Regions from separate parts of the Homo sapiens genome. Here region 1 is linked to region 2. Evidence: fine-mapped expression QTL. A gene starts in region 2. The other region holds a variant in brackets. All regions are shown on one strand. Distances are between the middles of the regions.

The links. PIP is the estimated chance that this variant, and not a neighbour inherited with it, causes the effect.
Region 1: its variant is the best candidate, but not a certain one, in a credible set for the expression of LINC02284 in adrenal gland (GTEx, PIP 0.79).

The regions. Positions count from the first base shown.
Region 1 is chr14:56,330,890-56,336,273 of GRCh38, forward strand. The region is part of intron 5 of LINC02284 (long intergenic non-protein coding RNA 2284); the gene reads left to right. Among named protein-coding and RNA genes, the nearest start is that of LINC02284, 23 kb to the left of the region's middle. The variant G/A (reference allele first, on the strand shown) is at 2,390.
Region 2 is chr14:56,307,795-56,313,178 of GRCh38, forward strand. LINC02284 (long intergenic non-protein coding RNA 2284) reads left to right here and starts at 3,195. Exons shown (of 7, transcript NR_187174.1): 1 at 3,195-3,300.

The sequences.
Region 1 (5,384 bases), 23 kb after region 2:
GGAGGCATCTGTCCCATGTCCTCTCCTAGCTTCTGGTGGCTTGCTGGCAATCAGATATCCCTTGGCTTGTAGATGCATCATCCAGATATTTCATCTTCACATGAAGGCATTCTGTGAGCATGTCTGTGTCCATTTGCCCTTTCTTTTTTTCTTTTTTTGAGACCGAGTCTTGCTCTGTCGTCCAGGCTGGAGTGCAGTGGAGTGATCTCCACCCACTGCAAGCTCCGCTTCCCAGGTTCACACCATTCTCCTGCCTCAGTCTCCCAATGGCTGGGATTACAGGCACCCACCCGGCTAATTTTTTGTATTTTTAGTAGAGACGGGGTTTCACCGTGTTAGCCAGGATTGTCTTGATCTCCTGACCTTGTGATCCGCCCATCTCGGCCTCCCCAAGTGCTGGGATTACAAGCATGAGCCACCGTGCCCGGCCCATTTGCCCTTTTTTATAAGGACACAAGTCATATTGAATTAAAGGCCACTCCACTATGACCTCGTCTTAACCAATTACATCTGCCCTGTTCCCAAATAAGGTCACATTCTGATGTATGGGGAGATAGGGTTGCAACATCTGAATCTTTGGGGGCCAGGGAGGTGTGGGGCAATAGAACTCCTAAAATCAGTTCACGAAGATGCTGTGATCTCAGTGTGGGTTTGGAGTGTGAGCCCCTTCTGCCTGATGTTCCAAAGCAACTCAGCGTGAGTGAGGCCTCTGCACCTCTCTCAGTTCACTCTTCTCCATCCCAAGGGAGGTGTGTGCCCCCTCACTTCCAGGAGTGTAATCAGGGATTCTCGTGCCCAGTGCCAGGTAGGGGGGAAGGGAAAAGAGACAGGGGTCTCCATCACCTCCTGTATAACCTCAACGCCTACTCAGCAGGAAGTGGGTAAAGAGTGGACAGAGGAGTTGAGGTGAAACAGAAGGTCGCCAGATGTGGGAACAGAGGAGGAGGTAGCTGACAGGTAGGACCAGAACCAGCCAGCTTTATCTGATTGTCTCGATGTCAATTTCACACTACTCTTTTCATGAGCAGGGTGGAGGATCCAACCCAGGCCAGGGTCAGGAGCATAGATGCTGAGTCTGAAGAGCGGGTGTGGGTGTCGGGAGGCAGGGGGGTTTGTAGGGCTGGCATGGAGCCCAGGACACATGTGGGAAGCACTGAACAGTTCAGCACAGCAGCTGTAGGCATTAGCCAGTTTAGTTAATCAGCAGTGCAAGCCCCCAAGGCTCAAGTCCTCTTTGTACAAAGATGACAGTAAACAGGAGTGGGCGCAGTGGGAAAAGAATAGACTTGAGAGTTAACCAGACCTAAATTTAAATTCTAATTCTGAGTCCACTTGGCTTTAGGCAAATCACCTTATCTTTCTGGCCCCAAGTTCCCACATCTTTTAAATATAAAATGGGAATAATAATAATAATAATACTTACCTTATAAGGTTGTTGTGAGGGCTAGATGTACTTATATGAAAGAGAGAGTCCTGGCAGGTGGTAGGTGATGAATAAATGGTAGCCAGTAATGGTGGTGAGAGAATCTTGTACTAACTAAATAGTATCACTCACACTATGTGCTTGAAGTCGAAACCAAGGCTTAAACTTCCAGGAGTGGTTCTTTAGTTGTGGGCTTAAAATGTACACACAGGGTCTCACATATTGTCCCTGGGTTAAAATTTTTGTAAAATAAGTGTCATTTTTCTCTCTATGGGACACAGATAGAAGTGGTCAGGATGTTACAGGGAAGTGTATTCTTTCCTATTATCAAAGGGGTGATAATGCCCAGTTATTGTCCTGGCAGTTGGACCTCTGCTCTGCTGTCCTTAAAAGTGAGTGGAGGCCAAGTGCAGTTTCTCACGCCTGTAATCCCAGCACTTTGGGAGACTGAGGTGAGTGGATCACTTGAGGTCAGGAGTTCGAGACCAGCCTGGCTAACATGGTGAAACCCCATCTCTACTAAAAATACAAAAATTAGCCAAGCGTGGTGGCACATGCCTGTAGTCCCAGCTACTTGGGAGACTGAGGCAGGAGAATCGCTTGAATCCGGGAGGTGGAGGTTGCAGTGAGCTAACATCACGCCACTGCACTCCAGCCTGGGTGACAGGGTGAGACTCCGTCTCAGAAAAAAAAAAAGAAGTGAGTGGCAAGAAAATATAGTAATAAGCACTGACATGGCGCTTACCACGTGCCAAATTCTATTCTTTATGTTTATGGATATTACCTTATTCAATCCCCACCATAACCCTATGGAGTGAACGTTATCCTCACTCCATAGGATGAGGATATTATTATCCTCTTTTTTAAACCACTTTTTATGTGCAATATCTACCTTTAAAAATATCTATTAGTAAACAGCTGAATTATAAAAAATCAATTTCACTCCAGCAAACCTCGAGTGCCCAA[G/A]GCCGACAACAAATGACTCAGCGAGTAAAATAAAGGTAGAACAAAGCAACAAGGACAAGTAAGACTTTAAGTGATTATTATTACCTCATTTTTACAGATGCTAAAGGTTAAGATGCAAGAACACGAGTGTCAAGTTCTGGTTCCAGACTACATGCTCGTGGCCACTACACTCTGCTGCTGCCTCATATTCTATATGCCTTGTACACTGTAACTCCACTGAAGTGCTGGTGGTGGTGGCGTGTGTGTGTGAGAGGGAGAGAGAGAACTGGGGCATCGGGAGGCCCCTAGCCCTCACACCTACCAGCCCAGCCACTGTGCAGAATGCAGGGATGAGTTGTTTCATTTCAGGTGTTCACTCTGCTTTTTGCAGAACATATTGTCCCTTGAAGGATATTAATACAGGAAATGAATAAAGAGTGGCTTCAAAACAAATTTGAGACCAGGACAGCTTCCATCTTATGTGTTTCAGATAAATAAGCCCTTACAGTAATCAACTCTTCAGGGCCAGACCTCTCTCCCTGGAATATGAAGTGCTCCAGCACACTGTAAACAACAGTGATGTGACTCATTTCCTGAACTGTGTCGTGGCCATCTGCTCAAATATCTGCCTTCCTTTTCCTGTATTCTAATGATACAGCAACTCTATGGACAATTATGTAGCCATTAAAAATGGCAATTTAAATTTTCAAAGTTAAAATGCATAACAATGTGGGGAAAATGCCTATAATACAATGTTAAGTGAAACAATTGCACACAAGAGGTGCATGTATGTAAAATGTGTATGCACGAGGCCAAGGCCTAGAAGGACATGGAAAAGGAAGCTTGTTTTCAAAAACTGGAGACTTCTTTTTTAAAGTTTCACATATACTTTTAAAATTAGAAATAAAGCAAGACGCTTCGTTGTGCAATTTCACTGCCATCAACTACAAACATAATGTTTACATACCGACCCAGTTTTTTTGGAGCTGGGAGGATCTCTAAGATTGATAAAAAATAGTTATTAAAATGGCAGATTTTTCTGGATATGGGAAAACTTATCATAAGAGAAGTATGTCGTTTCCTTATCCTGTTTGAAATTTTTTAATGGTTGGAGAACTTGTGAGGAAGGAGATTAAGAATGAAACAGTAATCTTTTCTTTAAAATGTTATCTCACACCAGATACAGAGAATAAATGAGCAGTTTCCAATCCTTTTTAGGAAGGAGGCAGGACATAAATAAACAAAATATGGACTACATGAAATATAACTTAAGCAATCTCCCTAGATACATTTTTCAATAAACCTAAAATCTATTAGGTATTTTTGTAGTTCTTCATTTCCTTTACTCACTTAAAGTCTTACTTGTCCTTGTTGCCTTGTTCTGCCTTTATTTTACTCACTGAGTCATCTGTTGTCAGCTTTGGGTACTTGAGGCTTGCTGGAGTGAAAAGAATTTTTTATAATTCAGCTCTGTTTACTAATACATCTTTTTTAAGGTAGATATTGCACGTAAAAAGTGTTTTTTTTTTTTTAAAATCAGCCAATGCCCTTGTGAAGCTACTTCATTTGCTCTGTTGGTCCAGGTCAGCTAAGTTTCCCACACATCTTTAGTATTGATGCATCAAAGGACTTAGTGAAATTAATCAACTGCATTTTAGAATGAAGGCTTCATTCCACAGGATGTGTGGGCCGTTAACAAAAGTGAATTTTTCCCAACTCAAAACGGTATAGAAAGGAAAATGTAAATGAAATGACTTGGAGTAAGTTCAGTATAAGGCTAATTTTTCTTAAGGGTAAGCTTGTGGTTTAGGTTAGAACTCATCAAGTTAATTGTCTTCTGATCCTTGAAAGTCAAATCCAGACATCTTCTTGATGATTCCTGTTACCAAAGTCTCTGGTACAAGTGATGTTTCCTGAGCCTTCTTAAAGACTCTGATGCTAAGGAGGTCCTTCGGGAACCCAGTGCTAATAACGTATGATACTGGAATAAAAAAGCAATGGAGTAAATGAACTTGCTGAGAAGGACCCCAGTGAACCATTGTTCCTGAATATAAAAACTAATTCCTGAAGATTGTGGCCAAAAAGTAGGTCCCAGTGGAAAAGAAGGAGAATCAGAGTTTGGAAATGTGATGAAATTTCCATTGGCATAGCAGAGAGTAGATCTTGTCACTAGTTGACATGTGCTGCTGCCAAGGTGTGGCCCTTGGGAGAGTACAGCTAATGGCCTCAGCGTCACCTGGAGGTCTGTTACAAATGCAGATAGACCACGAAAGGATTTTTGTCTCTTCGTTCACTTCCATCACCCTAGTGCCTTTAACAATGTCTGCACATAATTGCTGGACGAATGAATTTCTTGAGCCCAATCCCAAATCATTGAACTAAAATCTCTGGGGGCAGGTCCCAAGAATCTGTATTTTAACAGGATCCCCAGTTGGTCCTCAGGCATAGTTTAGTGTGAGAACCATTGCCCTCCTGTACATGGATACTGGCCAGTGTAGTACAGTGTTGATTCCCCTGAAAGCACCAAACTCTAGAAACCTGAAAATGAAGGAACAGCCGCACCTTGGTTTCTACTATGATTATGATGATGATTCTCTGGTATTGCATAAAACGTTTACACCCAATATATCCAGGGGTTAGGTTAGGCAGTTACACTTATTCCCATTTCACAGTAGAAAAACTTGGACATATGCAAGGTCAGATAATTAACAAAAAAAGAATCAAAACCTACCCCACTAGACAAAGTTTAGGAGATGATGTGCTAAGCCTGAACTGGACAACGTGACATAATTAGCAAAGAGTGAAGGACAGCACTCCACTTGGGTCTATTATTGTTATGACCAAGGTCATTTTAAAGTATCAGAGCCACTCTCCAGGCGAGTTATAGGAAGAGGCCACAAAGAACCCGAAGAGATGGCGTCTTTCAACCACCTCTGTTACTCTGCCAGTGATCTGAGAACAAAAGGCCCTCTTGGGCTAAAAAGAACAAGTTACGGAGTCAGAAGCGGGTATTAGG
Region 2 (5,384 bases):
TCAGATTGTCCCTACTGCCTTTTGGTTCTCACTCCACTTTAAAAAAGCTTAAATTGGAAATGATTCATTGTGAATGCTGTTCATTCAAGAAAGATCATCAAGAAGGATCACTTGACTCTTGTAAACGGACCTATACTCAAAAGGCTTTGGCACACTGTCAAGATATTAGTATACAAATGTGCATTTGTGTTTAAGTTAAAATGAGGTATGAAGGGTAAAATGCAAAATAAGTATATATTTTCTATAAGTTCCCTGCTATAAATTACTTTCAATGAACTGAAAACTACCTTTCTTTCCTTTTTTAAAAAAATTTTTTTGGTTTTGTTTTTTGAGACATGGGCTCCCTCTGTTACCCAGGCTACAGTACAGTGGCGTGATCCTAGCTCACTGCAGCCTCAAACTCCTGAGCTTACATGATCCTCCCACCTCAGCCTCCTGAGTACTTTGGTCTATGAGTGTACACCACCATACCCAGCTAACTTTTTTTTTTTTTAGAGATGGGGTCTCACTATGTTGCCCAGGCTGGTCTTGAACTGCTGGTCCCAAGGGATCCTCACCTTAGCCTCCCAGAGTGCTGGGATTACAGGTGTGAGCCACTGTCCCTGGCCTGAATAACTACCTTTCTAACTACATCAGATAAGAGACTTTCTGCTATAGTTCACATTGGGCTTTTGTGCACCCAACTGCAGATCACAACTGTATTGTGACTGTTTTCCCAAAGTAAGTTTGACATTCAGTTTGCTTTTATTTATTTCCTTCATTAATTCTATAAAAAATATTTATTAAGCCCCCATTGTACTCCAGGCACTGCACCAGCCACTGGAGGAGACTTGTGTGACTGAGGTAGATATAGTCTGTGGCCCTAGTAAATTTGCAGCTTGGGAAGAATACAGATAAGTAAAATGAAGCACCATGCTACAAGAGAACACAGAAGGAATACTGACTTGTATTTGTAGGATGCGAGGCGGCTTCTTTGTTCTTTTTTTGTTGTTCTTTTTGTTTTTGTGGGGTTTTCACAGTTAAAAAAAAATCTTCCTCACTCCTTGGTATGAAACCGAATGAGAATTATCTTTGACAAATGATTGGCTTGCAGCTTATCCCTTAATGAGCAGCTCCTGTATGAAAGCCAGTGTTATACACACAGACACAGACTCACACACCTTGGCACTGTTTCCCAGACTGCCTGTGGCAACCGTGCTTCCAGGAAGCCCAAGTTCTATGAATTAGATATGCACTTAATATCAAATTAAATATTAGAAAACTGTCATCACAGCCATTACCAGGCATGCTGCTGGGACCCCCAAAAGTTTTGATTGAACGCTGCGCATTATCCATTAAAAGGAAAAGTATGGAGGCTCCAGATGTTATTCTTCACCAAAGGGGAGTACACCTTCTTTTGTTAGGCAAGCTGAGAAGGGGATAATCAACTTTCACTGAGCTGAGTGAAATCTAGGCTCCTAAGGCCTCAGCCAAGACCCTGGTTTATTCACCAGGGCCCTTCCCCTTGTGAGTCCTGAACCGTAATTCTTGTTCCCTAAGCATGGTGACCCTGCCAAAAACTTCACTTTCTTTTCAGTCTTTCCACTTAGCCTTTTGCCCTGTTAATCTTTTAGCCTTTTGCTCTCTTAACCTCTTGAAGAGAAAACCAGGGTCAGTTTTCTGCCTCTCACCAGGATCTTGGCCTCGTATATTTTCAACTTTGTCTTTTGAACCCTCCAAGGCTATCTAGAGCTCTGCTGATTTCTCTGCTCCAGTGGCGGATTCTTACTCTACATCTAAACTCTGCAAATGTCCCCGAATAAAAGAAGTTGCAGATCAACAGATCAACAACTCACCCCTCTGTGATTCTACCCTCTTCAAACTGTGGCCTTGATAGTCACCTATGCATCAGCAGTTCTCTTATGTCTTTTAACCGAGTTTTAAATTTAATTTTATTTTATGTGGCCTTTCTAGTTATTTTTGGTGAGAGCATCAGTCTGCTGCCCGACAGCCTATTCAGAGGCAGAAGTCCTAAGCCTGTATTTGAAACCACAGGGCAGGAGCTGTGTTCAAGCATGTAGCTTTTCATAAGTCTAAAGGACTTTATCCAGTTTCCATCTGGGGGCTCTAAAAAGGTCTTCTCTGCTCAGAAAGTTAATGTTCCTCAAGATTTGACAAATGCGTGTCAAAATTCATCTTGTTCCTCCTTTTAACATCAAATGGTGAGATTTTCTTACAAATACATTAAAGCATAACATTTAGTGATTCCATGTGTTAAGCCATTATTTGTTAAATCAGCTTTATTTTAGTACGGCTTATAGACTCACTTGGAGTTGACCAGGATTGATTTTGGCAGGGAGGTACATCCTCTCCCTGCTTTCTGAAGGTGCCATTGTGTGTGGAAATGGAGAGATGGTCTCGGCTTTGGCGGTGCAGGCACCTGGAAAGATGCTCAGTTTCACTCTGAGAAGCTTCGGTCAGTGCTGGTCACCTGTGCATAAAGAGCCAGTGGACTCAACTGTGGGGAATATCAAGGTCCCAAATATCTGACTGTCCAGAAGCATCTTACTGTCCTTAGTGAATACGCAGGAATCAGTCTTTCTCTGAGGCCGTGGCAGGGCACAGATCAATCAGGGAGAATAGTTGGTCCCAGACCAGAGCCCACCTAGAACTGAGGATGTGTAAAGGGTGTCTGACTGGCTTACTCCTTGGCTTAAAGCCACTTTAATCTAGGACGTTGCGGAAGCCAGAGTGTATGTCGATTCCATTAAGGAAAGAAGAGAAATGCTTATGGAAACAGTACCACCTCCATATCCATTGGCCTCCCCTTCCCGACCTCCACCCTGCTGTACCCATCAGTCATCTGAAAGGAAGATCCCACAGAGTTGACAGACTCCTTTAGAGAGAAGATCGTCATATGCTCTCCGTAGGTTACCTGTCTATTTAGAAGCAAACCTCTCGTCACCCGCTGCGGAGCATCTCGATGTTAGAAACCACGCCACTATTTTTAGTGTGTGTCCTTGTGCTTCTGCACGATGAGTCAGGGTTCTCTTTTAAAAAATACTTGGCATTCCTCAGAAGAAAGATAAACACATTTAATGTTCTCAGTTGCTACTATTCTAATCGCAAAGTCAAGAGTTCCTTCTTTTCTTAGCTGCCTTCAGTGCCACAGAACTATCTGGGCCTCTTCCTCTACCCCTCCTTGTGTGATCGCTCCTTTCAAAAGCAACAGCCAAAGCAGATGCAAGGGAGATGCATTGGTGCTCATAAATTCAAGGAGCTGAAATGGCAACAGCTGTGGCAATTTCAGGATTTCAGCAGGTAATCAAGTAAGTGCAAAAGCGGGATTTGACAATTCTACAGGGGACTGGGACAGAGGGCAGCGAGAACTTGAGCTTCAAGGAGAATCTTCACTAGCTATCAACAAGAAATGTAAATGCTGTGACTTTACCCAGTTAAGCACAGCAGATTTTCCTGCTTTCAACTCTAATCCTTGAGCAGCAGGAGTACCCTTTCCCATCTCACAACATTTGACTTTCTCAGATATATTTATTCTATGTTATATACTGCAGTTCACCTATGTATTTTGGGGTTAATTTATCACTGGTTGAATAACATCGTTCAATAGACTTATGAAAAGATGGGCATTTTCAGTTGTGCCAATTTAGGTGAGGCTTATGGACAGTGTTTCTTCCAAAATGTTCCCAAGTCTAAAGGACCATGATTCTCAAATTCTCTGTAAAGTATAACTAGGTCTCTTTCTCACCTTGGAAGAACAGCAGCTAGAGGCCAGCATTCAAGGCATGGAACGGAGAAGGTATATGGTGCCTTGTTCTCTTTTGTTATTAGATGTAATTATGAAATATAAAACTAGGACAAAAGCAAGTTGTAAGTGTTAGCATAGTGGCTACGAGCACAGACTCAAGCCAGTCTGCCTAGGTTCAAATCCCAGCTCTGCCACTTGCGGGCTTTGTGACCTAGGACAAGTTTCTTTACTGTTTTACTGTCCCAGTTTCTGCATCTGTATAACATTGCTAGTAATACCCACTGCAAATGATTTTATGAGAATTAATTTACTCACTGTTTGGGAAGTACTTAGAATAATGCCTAGCAATAGTAAGCACTCAGTAAATGTCTTTTATATAGAGCATGTATCTATCTCTTCAATAACAAGCACCTGTGCAACAGTCAGAACACCACAAAATAGCACTATAAAGACAGTAAAAAATATCCCTTTGTTTTTTTTTAACATGTCTTTGTATTAATTAGAGCTCTGCCAGCTGCAAATTCAGAAATCCAATTTCTGAACTAGCCTAAGGGGACACAAAAGGAACTTATTGCCTCTTGGGATTGGGAAGTTCAGTGTGCCTCTGATTTCAGGAACAGCTGAATCCAAGAGCTCAGACTCTGTCCCCATCACTGCTGCTGTCTCTCTCCCTTTGTCTCTTGACTGTGCTCACATAATTATACCTGCAGTCTTTCACATGACAGGAAAGGTGACCACCACCAGCCCCTTGCTTATACCCAACTAATACCTATATATTAGTTGGTCTTACACTGCTATAAAGACATACCTGAGACTGGGTAATTTATAAAGAAAAGAGGTTTAATTAGCTCACGGTTCTGCAAGCTATACGGCTTCTGCTTATGGGGAGGCCTCAGGAAACTTATAATCATGGCAGGAGGGGAAGGGAAAGTAGGCATGGTCTTCACATGGCCAGAGCAGGAGGAAGGTGGAGGGGAAGTTGCTACCCACTTTCAAACAACCAGATCTCAGGAGAACTCTGTCATGAGATAGCACTAGGGGGATGGTACTAAACCATCAGAAACCACCCCCATGATCCAATCATCTCCCACCAGGCCCCACCTCCAACATCAGGGATTACAATTCAACATGAGATTTGAGTGGGGACACAGAGCCAAACCATATCACCCTCCTAGCCTAGCATCTCCTGCAGAAATGGTCTCCCCTGATGGGAAGAGCTGTGACTGGCTCAGCCTAGAAGCAGTCACTATGGATGGAGGGATATTGTTACCTAGCTGGACCAGGTGCCTACCTCTGTACAGCTTGGGGTGGGGGGTGGGGAGGTTGGAGTGAGGCAAGGTTGGCAACAGCAGTTCCAATCAAACCACACCACAGCTATGGAAATGGGTACCCATGGGAATGAGTGGTCCTGGTATTAGAGGAAAGTGGCACTAGGGGATGATGTTGTGCAGTCCAAAGCAATAGATGCCCATCTGAAGCTAGCTGGGAAAAGGCTTGAGTTCATCAGCAGGAGTGTACATTTCATAAGACATTTCATTTTTGAATGTCTCATTTCATATTTATCCCATTTCGTGGACAAATATCCATTATAAACATATAAACATCAAATTATGTCTGATTTTCTTAAGTCAATGAATAG